Linked DNA regions of Homo sapiens. The protein of the gene in region 1 interacts with the protein of each later gene in a biochemical or structural test. Each region holds a gene or a part of one and is shown on either strand. Other genes may lie near its edges.

Region 1 (7,282 bases):
CTTCCCTTTGTTTTATTTTATTTATTTGAAAAAAAAGTTAAAGGAGAAGATCCAGATGAACAATATGTTCTTTTCCCTTGGCGTTCTTTCAGACGCTTTCAATGGCAAACATGTGTTTTGCATTAAACAGCAAGAAAAATAATCCTGTTTTTTATGTTTATGACCTTGATTCGTCACTTAACTGCTCAATAACCCATTTTTTTAATCAAGCAGGTTATTATGCTAAACTGAAGAAATTATTGTATCTGTATCTTTCCTGAAGAGGTTCCATACTGTAAGGAACTCTTATTCACAGGCATTTTTGCAACCAGTGTCATGATAAAAAGCAGTTCGCACAAAATATCTTCTATTTAGCCCCAGCTAAATGACTCTGAATGCAAATTAAGAAAACAAATGTTTCAGACCTCCTGGAATTGAGGTGTTGATTTATGGAAATGATTACTCAGAGGCTTTTCTTTTCACTTACATCTGTAACTGTAAAATTTATTCAGTTTCTAAAAATTTACATTTTCAGAATTCATTAAATGAAGAGTGGTACGTTTCTTATATTACCCGACCAGAGGCAGAAGCTGCTCTTAGAAAGATAAACCAGGTATTGTGCTATAGTTTATTTTAACATAGTTGTAAATATTAATGGCAGAGAAGGGAACTGACCTGTCCTGAGTACCAATTACAGGCTAGGAATTCTGCTAGGTGCTGTTGCTTTCTGTAATACCTAGGAGACCCATTAGTGCCAGCTTCACAACTACCAGCACCCATAGCAGGGATTCCTAGGCTCGGGAATCATTAGGCTGGCAGAAGAATCTCAAGGCAGTCATTTGGTTGGCAGCATCTTAGGAGATTTTATTAATGAAAGAGTCTGTCTTGTCATAGGAATCACATGGTGTCAGAAGGAGACTCTCTTTCAAAGTTCCAACATCGTACCAGTTCTATCTTCCTCTTAACACAGACGTGCCATCCATGTTGATGTGAAAGGACCAATATTAAAGAGATGGCAGCAACTTTTTGCTTTTTGCCCTAGACGTTTCTAGCTAGTCCTTTAATATCATAAAGTCTTAAACATATTTCCCGTAGCCAGTGCCGAAACTTTACCTTAGATTTATTTATCAGAAATGGGAAAGCAAAAATCTTTCATCTTTCACACTTAAACTCCACACCAGTAGTTCTCAGTAGTAGTTGCACATTTAGATCACCCGGAGAACTTTTGAAAAATCCCGATTCCTGGGTCTCACCTTGAGATTCTAATTATTCTGGGGGTGCTGTGTCAGCTCTGGGAGTCTTCAAACTTCCCAGGTAATTCTAATTTGAAGCCAAGACTGTGAATCACTGGTCCAGAAGTATGTTTGTTTAGCAGAGATGTTCTGACAGGCTCAATTAACTTGCAATAAAAGGAACAAAGGAAAGTCATTATTGCCAACTCATGGCTATTTAAAGCTATCCTGATTTGGTATGAGGAGAAGGGAGTAGTTTAAAGGAGTCCTTACCAATTAATTCTATTTTAATATTAGATCTTTACAGTATTAATATTATGTAGCAATAATTTATTGAATGGAAATTTAAAGTACAGGACAATCAAAACAGTAGTTTAGCAAATATCAGAAAAAAGAAAAGAAAAGAGAACATCTGCATTCAATTTTGCTCAAGGGTCTGATGAAGGAAAGACTATCTAGAGATCACAGGGTTTTAAGAAGGGTGAATTTCATGGCATGTGGATGTTTTCTGACTTTGGATGTGGAAAAGAAAGTTTAGGGAATTAACTCACAGGAATACTAGGAAGATATATCTTGAGTTAACCAATAAAGTATTTTATTTCTCCTGGCCTTTTATCCACTCAACCACCCATTATTTATTACTGAACAAAAGATTCCGTTTTTATCAGGAGGCTTTAACGAGATTGACTTGGAAATTTCTTTGATACAATCTCTGTTGCCTTTCTTAATAACAAAATAACTCATGACACATGGGATATGTAGCTGTTTGGAGAACTGAATGTTCGTTGAATGACAGGTTTTGCACTCAAGAAGCTGCAAAGTGCAACTGACATGTTTGTCAGATCCCTAGAGGCTTGTCTACTACTCTTACAAGCAACAAAAATATTGACTTTTACTGCTCCCATAATAACAGGAATTTGTCTTTTTAGGATGGCACATTTCTGGTCAGAGACAGCTCTAAAAAAACAACAACCAATCCATATGTCCTCATGGTGTTGTACAAAGATAAAGTTTACAACATCCAGATCCGTTATCAGAAGGAAAGTCAAGTTTACTTGTTGGGAACTGGACTCCGAGGGAAAGAGGTAAGGATTTCAAATTTCGACATTTTCCCAAAGTCTTTATTTATGCCACTCTGCATGCCTTCATGGAGCGATCTTTGAGAGTCCGTGCTGTATGGCAAATTTAGGATTAAATCACATGAGTGAAGCCCTTCATTTATTGGAAGAGAAATAAAGCAAAATCTTTACAATGGTTACTTCTGCCATAGGATTCTTTCTTGTATATCTTTTCTTTCAAATAATCACATGTATAATTTTCAAAATCAAGAAAAACTATGTTAACTTAAAAAAATCTATTTAGATGGTGTCAAAGGAAAGTTCCCACTATTATTCACCTCTGTGGCATAATTTTAACGTAGGCTGCATTTTAAGTTGACACCACCTGGAAAAGGGGAAAAATTAGAATATTTGCTGGGGTGATTATTCAAATACTTGGCTCATTTCTTAACAAAATGGAGGTTTGGCTCTGTGAGGATGGCCAGATCGCCAAAGAAATTCTCTGTTAGGCCAAGGTTTAGATTCTCATGCCAGTCACTTTTTGAGTGCTAATCAGAACGGATGGAAAGAAACCCTCAGGGCTAGTTTTTCGCAAAGGAAACTAACAACTGAAGGTAACGCCCCAAACATACTCTAAGTTCAAAGTTCCAAGAGGAGGACCAGCTGAATCAAACATGTCCAGAATGAGAAACAGCTTACCCATAACTTCTGCTTCACATACTTCTGTTATGATAATGTTAATGAATAGAAAAAAAATGCATGCTTGTGATCAAATGTTTGAATCGCTGGTTGGCAGTGGATAGAGCTGCACAGACCCTATAGGAGCAGAGGTATTTGCCCTTCAAGATTTATCTTGGTCCAGTGTGGAAACACACAAGTGCAGACCAACCACTCATTGCAGCTCCCATGGAGGGAGGCACCTAGCAGATTAGTCTTAAAGGAAGTGCATTATCCTGTTAGGGTTCCTAGGTGAGTTGTGACCCACATCTAGAAAAATGAGTTAGGCTTTTCCCTCTCTAGCAAGCAATCAAGGCTGGGGCGATCCAGGCTATGGCTGCAAATATTGGTTGCTGAGCCTTTATGAGTGTGAAGGTGGCAGTGAGGACACAGCAGAGAGATCATGAAGGAACTCCTGTGCCATGCTGCAGATCCCACCTCTAGACACCATGAACCGTGTCTGACCTCCTGAGTCCTTATGTTTCCTAACACTATTAATGACTGGGGGTGAAATAGAGATGCAGAAACCAAAACCAAAACCAAAAACAGAGCAACCCGAGGCAAGAATATTGTAATAGTGACTATTTAAATGACCCCTTCATATGAAGTTAAAAATATATGCATTTCAAATTACATATATATATATATAGATATGTAGATATATATATATATATATACACACGCATGCACATATTTTATCTATTTTTTTTTGAGATGGAGTTTCCTTCTTGTTACCCAGGCTGGAGTGCGGCAATGGCGCAATCTCGGCTCACTGCAACCTCTGCCTCCCAGGTTCAAGCAATTCTCCTGCCTCAGCCTCCCAAGCAGCTGGGATTACAGGCGCACACCAGCACGCCCAGCTAATATTTTTCTATTTTCTAGTAGAGACAGGGTTTCACCATGTTGGTCAAGCTGGTCTCAAACTCCTGACCTCAGGTGATCCACCGGCCTTAGCCTCCCAAAGTGCTGGGATTACAGGGGTGAATTACTGCACCCGGCCCATATTTTATCTTTATCTATGGTTTGTTGGATGTTTATGAGGAATTTTTTCAAAGTTCTATAGCAGAAATCATTAAACTAATTGCCACATTTACATTTTTTCCCCCCACAATCCTCATCACTTGAAGAGGCAGCATATATTATGCAGATAAAAAAACTGAAAGTGAAGTTCCTGCTTTTCATTCCAATGTTGACTCATCTCCCTATCTTGACTCTTTCAGGACTTTCTGTCTGTGTCAGATATTATTGACTACTTCAGGAAAATGCCACTTCTGCTCATTGATGGGAAAAACCGAGGTTCCAGATACCAGTGCACATTAACGCATGCTGCAGGGTACCCATAGCAAGTTATAGCCGAGCAAATGAACCGTCCTCCTGCCTCTGTTGCCAACACGAGATCAATCAGCCTTGGTCAATGGACAAACACTTAGGACTGAACTGAACCCCTCCCCATGAACACAAGGGTTTTATCCTTTCCTTTAAAAACAGTGTTTGAAATGAAGACTGTCAACTATCCCATAATTTATTTATTCTTCTTCAATGTTTGTAAAGTGCATGAGTCATGTTCACACTTGAAGTCTAGTAGTGCACTGTAATAATTCATTTTTTAAAAGATTATTTAATGCCCATTTCAAAATACAGTAGTTTACACAGCTACAGAAACAATTTGGGGCAAGTTTTAAAACACTGAAACAGTAATAGTTATTGGTGTCACATAAAACTGATTTGTTTTTTACAGCCAAACCTCTGTCAGTCAGAGGCATTCATTAGTTTTATACATGTAATTTGAAAATCACTAAACCTCGTTTTCTCAGCAGCAATAATTTAAGAGGCTTCAAAAATATAATTTCACTCTTATTTAGTATTTTTTCCTGGGGGCATTTTTACGTAATTTTTTTATGAAAAGACAAATGCATGTTGAGATAACTTCTGGGATTAAAATAGTCTTTTGCTTTACTTTTTTGGTTTCCTAAAACAACTTTATTGACTTTTAGTCCATACTGTTATATTTTTGTCTTAAAGAAAATTTAAACTACAAATACCAAAAGAAAACATTTTAAATTTAGGGATGAGACTTTGGTGTATCGTGGGTCTAGGTTTAATGAACACATCTGGGGTTAAGTTGGCATTTCTTCACATCTCCACACCCACACCAACCATCACAGCCCCCCACCAACCTTCTCCCAACCCCAAAAGCATTGTCCAGGGATATAGATTTTACCAAAGGCTTCCTGGGAAGACGAGGGAGCAACACTTTAGATTAAATGTGATCAGACTTTCCTATTAGATATGGCTCTTCTGTCTCTTGTTATCCCCCTGACAGCTCTGCCATAAAGTCCCTTCTCCTCATCCTTCCCAAACAGGCTGTATAAGTGCTTTGAGGTAATTAAACTCTTTCCTCCAGTTTACAAATATCACTTAACAAAAAATATAGGCATTCAGCCAGATTAAAAAACTGGTATTCAGCCAAATAGTGACAATCAGTTGTTCTTCAAGTTTTTCCCTTTGGGACCTTGGTTGTTATTGCACAACTTTTATTAGCAACAATTTTTGGCGTCTCTGCTTAATCTACAAGTTTTCGAAATGGAAAAGAGTATCTTGCAGCTTCATTTTCATGAGCTAATAAAAGGGGTATTGGAAGGAATCTAAGAAGTCACCATTTTAAAACTGATGATATGTTAAAATAAGGAGTATGCAGAAGGTAGAGACTTTTAACTGATGATAAAAATGGTGTTTCACAAAATCTCATCCTTAACAACCAGAAGTTCTCAGTTTAGGGTCCAAAACTTGGGAGTTTAAGGCTGAAAACCCTGCATTCATTTACACGTCTACACAACGGGCTATTCAGCAAGTATTTACTTAGTGGCTCTTCTGTGTTAAACAAGTGAGCTAGGTACAAGGTAGTAAGGATAGCATACACCATAGGTTCTAGTATCGAGTAAGCTCCACTTGTCTTGCTTTGCCGTATTCTATCTTTACAATTCAAAAATATCTAAAATGAAGGACCTGATAGATTTCAAAGCAACTATTTGGTAGCGAATCATGTTTATAAAACAAACCAAAGCTCATTTTAAGTCTATTAGTGGAAAGTGCCATCAGGATTAAGATGTTCTGTTCCATGGCTATGACTGAAATCAATGTTGGGAAGCTAATGTTTTCATGACTAGCATTCTCTCTCTGTTCAAGCACCGACAACTCCTTTTGGCTGGGCCTTGCCTCTTTTGGCCACAGACCTTCTATATGACCCCAGGTGCATCAGTCACAGTTGCTCAGAACCCTGCTCAGTGATAAACATCTTACTAAAGCTGGGTCAATCAGGGTCACTCTCTGGAATGTTAAACATGAAGCCTGAGACAAGATCTCTCTTTTATCTGGGGTCCCCAAAGGCAATGCTGTACACTTGGAGCTGCCTGCTGCCCTGCAACTACTCCCATTTACCAATTATCTGGAAGAACCAGTCTACAATAGAAGACAACGAGGCCAACACACAAAAACACAGTAAAAGTATGGACAAATTAGTGGGATCCCTGAAATCTATTCCAACTATGTGCTTCCAAGTCACATGACTCAATAAATGCTTCAGCTGGTTGAGTTGTGCTTGGCGTTCACTACCAGGAGAGTTCTGATTAATAAAAACTCATTCCATCAATTAATAATTTAGTAGCTCTCTTTCAACCTGAGCCAAATTCAAGCATAAGCTAAAGGATAAGCAGTGACCCATGGCCAATTTCCTATGTCATACACTTGCCATTAGTGACGTAAGTTAAGCCATTCTTCAAAACATTAAACAGCCTTCAAGAACATGAACTGCTTGTTTACATTATTTTTATTTTGTTTTAAATTATATATATACAAATTAGTAAACTCAACTCTCCCAAATATTTGTTAGTTCAACAATAAAACAGAAACTCATAACAAATAAGAAATCAGATAGAAAAACTGTTAGAAACAAGGGATACATCTGATATTTTAGACTCTTCAAAGAGGGGGTTGTTTCTTTCTGCTTCTGCTAAGTTCTCAGTCTTGATGGGATGATTAAAATGTAGGATAAGGTCACAAAGCAATAACTGGGAGAGCTCTGTGCAAAACAAAACAGGAGATATTATATTGTAGCACATATGTCATAAAAAACTATTATTGCTTTAAGTAGCTATTTCTTCCTAATTCCTAATTTCCAAGTGATTAGTGATCAAACCACAACTTAAGTGTGTCCCATTCTGACTTAAAATAAGATTTATGCTCTCGAGGAGCCAAGATGGCTGAATAGGAACAGCTCCGGTCTACAGCTCCCAGCGT
Region 2 (7,326 bases), about 130 Mb from region 1:
TTTGCTTAGAATTACTCTTGCATGGGGGAATGGAAGCCCTAAACATTTAATAAATATCCAGAAGCACTGAGGTGTTAGCTTGATTCTGTAGCAGATGTTAAGACCAAAAACTTTATTTAAGAAGCATTTGAATGATTTTTTTAAATTTAATTGCTCAGGTTTCCCTGTAATTTATGAAGGCCTTTAGTGAATAGCCACAAAAATAATGAAAACTTCATATTCAAATAATAACTTAATATTACATTACTGGTTTCCTTTAGAAACATAATGCAAGTAATTCTTTTCAACTTCACCTTCTGTCAACACCATCTCAAGGAGGACTATACATAAAGGAAAATATGCTCCTCATATTTTTATATTTTCCTCTAAATGATAGGGGAAAATACTACTACTATACGGTGTCTTAAAAGTCTTACATTAATTCTCCAGTTCAGAAAATTGGTTGCCTGTAGCCAAAGCATGTAGTAAAATAGGTTTGCATGAAAAGCAATGCTTTTGCTTTTATTTTTTTATTTTTTATTTTTAAATTTTATTTTATTTTATTTTAAGTTCCAGGGTACATGTGCAGGATGTGCAGGTGTGTTACATAGGTTAACGTGTGCCATGGTGGTTTGCTGTACTTATCAACCCATCACCTGGGTATTAAGCCTGGCATGCATTAGCTATTTTTCCTGATGCTCTCCCCTCCATTGCCCTCCCCCAACAGGCCTCAGTGTTTGTTGTTCCTCTCCCTCTTTTATTGATTATAAGACACATAACACAGAGTGACAAGGGGAGAATCAAATGTAATTATCAGCATCATCATCTTGTTGTAATCAAATAATATTACTGCACAAATTTTCCTTTGTGAGCAAAGATTTTATAAAAATAGAAAAATGGGTGTTTATTATTATGTAATAATAAGAAAAGCTCAAAATAAGATAAATTTGAGCAAGTATCTATACTTCCGCTTATTTCGGAAACATACCATCATGTTACTAAACTCACCTCATAGCATTTTAGTTGTTTTTATTAAATCTTCAAACCTTTCAGACACTACTAAGCATAGAGACCATTCATAACAAATGAAACTTTCAGTTTTTTAAACTAAAACTTTCTAAATGTGTACATTTCTTTTCTGCCTTTTTGGAAAGCAAACTTTTAAAAATGTATATACTTTTAGGACACAGAGGCTGAGAGATATAAATTGCTGGGCTCACCTTCCCTTTAGTGGGACAAATGCATTAAAAAAGAGCAAGAGTCCCACAAACCAGGAAGCTGCCCTTGGCCTCTAATACATTAATTAATGTTTATAAAGTGCCTTCTGTATGCCTGGCAATGTACTACAAGCTGGAAATCCAGGACAAATAAGCCACAGTTACCGCCAACCCTTAAGGAACTCATGATCTAGTGAGAAACACAGACATATCTCCAACAACTAAGAGAGAGTACAAGACGCCAGAGCTCAGAAGGCCTTACCCAGTCTTGTGGGACAAAGTTCAAAAGGAGATCATATCTACACTGGGTTTTGGAGCATAAGCAGGAGTTAGCCAGGTGAAAAAGGAGAGGGGGCAGTACATTCCATGAAGACAGGGCGTGTTGCTTGCTTTTGGAGGATTATTTCATTTTATTTTATTTTATTTTATTTTACTTTATTTTATTTTATTTTATTTTTGAGACAGAGTCTTGCTCTTGTTGGCCCGGGCTGGAGTGCAATGGTGCAATCTCAGCTCACTGCAACCTCCGCCTCCTTTGTTCCAGCAATTCTCCTGCCTCAGCCTCCTGAGTAGCTGGAATTACAGGTATGCACCACCACCACGCCCAGCTAATTTTTGGATTTTTTAGTAGAAACAGGGTTTCACCATGCTGGCCAAGCTAGTCTCGAACTCCTGACCTCAGGTGACCTACCCTCCTAGGCCTCCCAAAGTGCTGGGATTATAGGCGTGAGCCACCTCACCCAGTGGATTATTTTATTTTGTTTTGGCCATCTGAGAGAGGTTGGCAGAGAGGAGAAGAAAAACAAGTAATCCCAAATTCCAGTTAGGCTTCCTTCATGGCCCAAGATCAACTGTCCCATGTTAGGTAAAGTCTTCCTCAACTCTTCTGCCCCCATGCAGAAGGAATTACATATTCCTGGGTATTTCCAGATGCCTTTATTCATACTTTGAGCTTAATACTCATCACAGTGTGTCATGGTTAGTTATACAGTGTCTATCTCTATAGTGGTTATAATACATGTTTGGTTGCAGCAAAAGAGACACAACATAACACTGATTTTTAAAAGTTAAATGTCTGTCCTCCTGTTCCCTTCTTTATAACCATCTAGCAAAATCCAGTGAAGATGGGGTTGTCTCCTGTGTTGGGGGCCAGGTCCTTCTATCTCCTGGCTCTGTCATGCCTAGAGTATTACCTTAGTCATCACTGGATCAGAAGAGCTCAGGCCCCCACAGCATCCCAGCCAGCTGGGAGGGGAAAGCATGATGGGGCCCTCTTTTAGGACACACCAAGAAGCTACATAGATCCCTTCTGCATAGATCCCATTGACTAAAACTTAACCACATGGCCAAATCTAATGTCAAGAGGGACTAGAAAATGCCTTATCCTGTGTAGCTGTGGGCCAGGTAAAAAGCCAGAGATCTCTTAGGATAGAATAAGCATCCTAAACTTTTGGCAAACTTTTTCTGCAGAGGACTAGATAGTAAATATTTCAGGCCATATACGGTCTCAGCCATGTCATCATCATTGTTGTCATCATCATTGTTACCATCATTGTCTTCTTTTGCTTCTTCTCCCTTTTCTTACAATTCTTAAAAAATGTAAATTCTTAGCCTGAGGTCTGTACAAAACATTCCACAGGCCAGATTTGGCATGCGGGCCATAGTTTGCTGACCCTACTACTCTATAAGAAGGGAAAATCATACGGGGAGGAAAGTGACCATCTCTGGCATAACGTCTGTAAGATTATAAGCCACTGAGTGGAAAATCCTTGTCTTCTCCATCTTTCTAGTCTTGGCCAGTGCTTGACCCACACAGTAAGTGTTTGATGTTTATGAATGAATGAGTAGAAGGAAGGTGGGGGAGGTTAATTTCACAATCACAATTTGTTAAAATCTCATTTAGTCCCAATGGTAGCCTCTGTTTTGGGGGGTTTCTTTTCTTTTCTTGTCTTTTCTTTTCTTTTTTTCTCTTTTCTTTTTTGAGTTTCTTTCTTTCTTTCCTTCTCTTTATTTTTCTTTCTTTCTTTCTTCTTTTTTTTTTTTCCTTCAGACAGGATCTTGCTCTGTTACCCAGGCTGGAGTGCAATGGTGGTGCAATCATAGCTCACTGAAGCCTTGAACTCCTGTGCTCAAGAAATCCTCCCACCTCAGCTTCCCAAATGTCTGGGGCTACAGGCATGCACCATCACACTTGGCTAATTTTTTTTTTATTTTTGTAGAGACAGGGTCTCACCATGTTGTCAAGACTGGTCTTGAACTCCTGGTCTCAAGCAATCCTCCTGCCTCAGCCTTCCAAAGTACCGGGATTACAGGCATGACCCACTACACTCAGCCCCACTGGTGGTCTTTTCACATGGATTATCATCTAAATACTCCATTTCTTCCAGCCTCAAGAATAGTCTAACAGAGAGCCGACAGAGTGAGTCTAGTGGGCTTTCCACACATGAGTGACCACTCTTCAGTTGATATGGTCAAGCACACCACTTTACCTCCTGACCTCAGGTGCAATTAGCTTCCAAATATTCCACATGCTCCAGTGGACCTTTCTAATTGTAAGCATCCCCCTTTGGCCCCCATTGCAGGTGACACTCCTGGGTGTGTGGAAAGATTATGGGTCCAAAGAACTTACAGCTTCTTCCTCTTGAATAAACATGGTGGCAGGCAGGAGAATCTTGTTTTGGTTTTACCCTTTTAAATATCACATGCTTGGTGGGAATGTTAGCAGAAGTATCCAGGCTGAACAGACACTTTTAAGTTCCCCTTTCTCCTCCTTATTACTCAATATCCTGAGGGCATAATAGAACTTTTCTTGTCTAAGTTTGCCTGGTCAGGGGAGGGAGGTGTGGCTCACTCAACCACTGACCGGGACAAAACCCTGCCAGGCATCAGAAAGCTCCGCAGTTCTTGAGTTCCACATGCAGAGCAGATGCGACAGCTAGAAGTGAGTAGGGCCCAGACCCTGGCCCAGGAAGATCCACTAAAGGAGGCCATCCTTCCGCCTTCTTCTGCAGGAGTCAGGTAACAGCTATGCCTAGGTTTCTTCTTTCAAATAAATGTGTAATTTTTTATAGCAGGAAAAAAGCACCACTTCCAAATTCTGGCAGCACAGACTGTGCTAGCTGAATAACTGAAGGAAACGCATGTTCTGTTGGAAAATAGCAAAAGAGATGAACAGGAGACACTAAAACTCAGCCTCATGGTAGCCAAAAGGATGATAAGCAGATAAAAATGTGGCCGGGAACGTGTCTGTCACTTGCTCTTTCGTAACTGGATAAGGCCTCTCATGTGTTCTTGTTGGAACCTCTGGTGCCACTAGCGTTAAATAACGTCTTGCAGTGAAACCAGAAACAAGGTTTTATTGCCAACAGAGCTGGGCACAGATGGTTTATTTCATCCTGGTTCCTAACAAATATGTGTCCATCCTTTTGATGAGAAAGAGTAACTTTCAATTTCCTCCAAACCTGGCAGGAGGTGAGGATTCACATGAGATTTCTACATAGACTAAAGAAAGGGACTATACTGCCATGAATTATGCCTTCTCAGAAGGAATCCTGGCAAACTGGATAAATGATGACAAACAGCTGCAGATCAGCCAAGGAGGCCTTTCAAAGCAACCAGCAACTCCAAATTTTCCTCGGAGCCTTTGGCTGTCTTGTATACATTGCTGATTCTTCTGAAAAATTCACAAGGTCTTTTCCCCCCATTTAACTTGATTTGCAGGGAAGTAATTAATAGAAATGGGCCTCTGACTCTGCCTTCTATTAGCTGTGTGACTTTGGGAGAGCCACTTAACCTCTCTGTGTCTCAGTTTTCTCATCTAAACATGGGGATAATAATAGAACTCATCTCATGGAGTTGTTGAGGGGATAAAACTATATACACTTTTTGAGTACTAATGTAAAATAATAATTAATATTCACCATTTTAAATATTTTTTCATTAAATACAAATAATTCTGCGTGGGAAACAGATGGGCTTATCACCGGAAGGGTGAAGTTGTGGCTGTGATTTTCTGCCCATGCTATGGGAATGCCACCGGAGGTTTTAGGTAGAGTAAAACGTCCCCATGCAATGTGAGATACACACACTTCAAATAGTCCGATACCTTAAGAAATTAATCATAAGTGATAGGTGAGGGGGAGGAGGATAAGGGTGCTCTTTCCAATAAAACCACATGTTTTATGATGTACCATTAAAGGCGATCCTGAATATCAAAGGCGTTATGGTGCACTTAAGGCACCCCGTGGAAAAGTTGACCATCCGTTTCAAAAAGGAAAGGCTAAAAAGGTTTCCATTTCCCTTGAGAAATTATTGTAAAGGTTGAAATCCACACTGCCTGACTGTCATGTCCATTATTTGTTTACTACCATTGGGCTTCAAATTCCCCCCAGCTTCTGCTGGAGTCCAGAGGCTTGGAAGCTCGCAGCAGCTGATTTCTGGTGCAATGCTGCACCTTGCCAAGTTACGGCTGCTTCATAGAGCAATCACACTGACATCTAGTGGTCTAAAGAGTAAGTGCAGGCGGTGGCTTTGAAGCTTTTACCAGCCTCAATGTGCTTTAAAAACCACATTTTCCACCATTTACACAATACGTTAACAAGAGAGAGAGATCAGGGATGTAGAAATGATATTTCATTTGTCTGAGGTGTTACTAGAGGCTGCTCTACAGGAACATTTCTAAAAACAAGAAAGTGAAGAGAGTGAACCGTGGCTCGCTGGCGGGTTTGGGCTGTGGTTCCAGGGGTTGCGGTTAAGACTGTGACTCCAGAATCAAGATCCTGAGCTTGAAGGTGGTCTCTGCCACGCACCAGCTGTGGGCCTTGGGTGAGTTCCTAAATGGTTCCATGACTCAGTTTCTTTATCTGTCAAATGGGGATAACAGTAACGTCTCCATTGACCTGTTTTGAGGTGATCCCTGAAAAGCTCCTAGCACAGCACCTGGCCCAGAAGGCAATCGGGGTTGCCCTCTGTTCTTGTTGTGACTGTTTTTTAAGAGCAAGCTGCTGCAGAAGCTGGCACCCCACAGGTCAGACAGCATAGCGCAGTGGAAAGCTCAGAGGATGAGCAAGGGAGAGACCCAGATTTTAGCCCAACTGTGTGAACCTGGACAGATCCCTTACGCAGTTTCTTTTTTGTAAAATGAAGGACCTTGGTTCGCTAATGTTTAAGGATTTTTTCCTTTCTCAAACGTTGTGTTCTAAACCTTGTACAGGCTTCTAATTGAAATTGTTCTACCTTTAAGGCCCATTTGTCTCCTTTCTTTTTACCAAAGCCCAGGGCCAAGCATGTCCCAGGTGTTTATTATATAGTTGCTGACTGATAAGAAGTGATTGTTGGAATGCTCTCTATTGGTCACTAGGAATAAACCAAGAATGTCTTTGGGCAGGAATGAAAATCCAGTGGGAAGCTCTGGAAGTCAAGGAATATTTCCCCATCAGAAGCTGGTCTGGGGTTTCTCTGATAAATTTGGAAAGCTCAGTGGTTGTCTTGTTTTTCTACCTCTGCTAATCAGCCTCTCTAAACAGATAAGAAACCAGGAAAATCATTTAGCTATATAAATTCAATACATAACCTTGTTAATCACGTTGCTGCAGCCTGCGCCTTGTGAGTTGGTCAGAGCAGTGGATGACTTTGCTTCTAAGTGCAGGTGAAATGCCACCAAATTCACATGCTGCCTGTGACCAATGCCTAACTCAGTCTTTCCAAGCCAGGGATAATCCCAGCTGGGATGTCACCTCTAATATGGCAACAAATGGTGGTGCAGCAAAAAATAATCATGAAACAGTCTTTCTTCCCTTCTTCCTAAACTTCATCCACATAGACTGTTGGATATTTATAGAAATCCAGCACAAACACAGGGAGGGGAACGACACACACTGGGGCCTGTTGCAGGGCAGGGGGAGAGAGAGCATCATGATAAATAGCTAATGCATGTGGGGCCTGATACCTAGGTGATGGGTTGAGAGGTGCAGTAAGCCACCATGGCATGCATTTACCTGTGTAACAAACCTGCACATCCCGCACATGTATCCCAGAAAGAACTTAAAATAAAATTTAAAAACAAATAAACAAAAGAGTGAACAAAGGAGGGAGCTGCGGGTAGAATTTTAACAACATGCATACCACTATT

The links.
Region 2: the proteins of LCP2 (region 1) and FYB1 form a complex in vitro, tested with the Homo sapiens proteins (one study listed by BioGRID and IntAct).

Annotation. Positions count from the first base shown.
Region 1 is NC_000005.10:170,245,744-170,253,025, reverse strand, and holds the end of LCP2 (lymphocyte cytosolic protein 2), read left to right. Parts: intron 1-455; exon of another isoform or gene 456-514; coding exon 515-592; exon of another isoform or gene 593-1,378; intron 1,379-2,140; coding exon 2,141-2,296; intron 2,297-4,206; coding exon 4,207-4,329; 3' UTR 4,330-6,793; downstream 6,794-7,282. Other genes in the region: putative uncharacterized protein C5orf58, read right to left, coding at 6,913-7,064. UniProt on the Homo sapiens protein: Adapter protein primarily involved in signaling pathways within T-cells, as well as other immune cells such as platelets, mast cells, and natural killer (NK) cells.
Region 2 is NC_000005.10:39,216,331-39,223,656, reverse strand, and holds the start of FYB1 (FYN-binding protein 1), read left to right. Parts: upstream 1-4,093; 5' UTR 4,094-4,214; intron 4,215-7,326. UniProt on the Homo sapiens protein: Acts as an adapter protein of the FYN and LCP2 signaling cascades in T-cells. May play a role in linking T-cell signaling to remodeling of the actin cytoskeleton. Modulates the expression of IL2. Involved in platelet activation.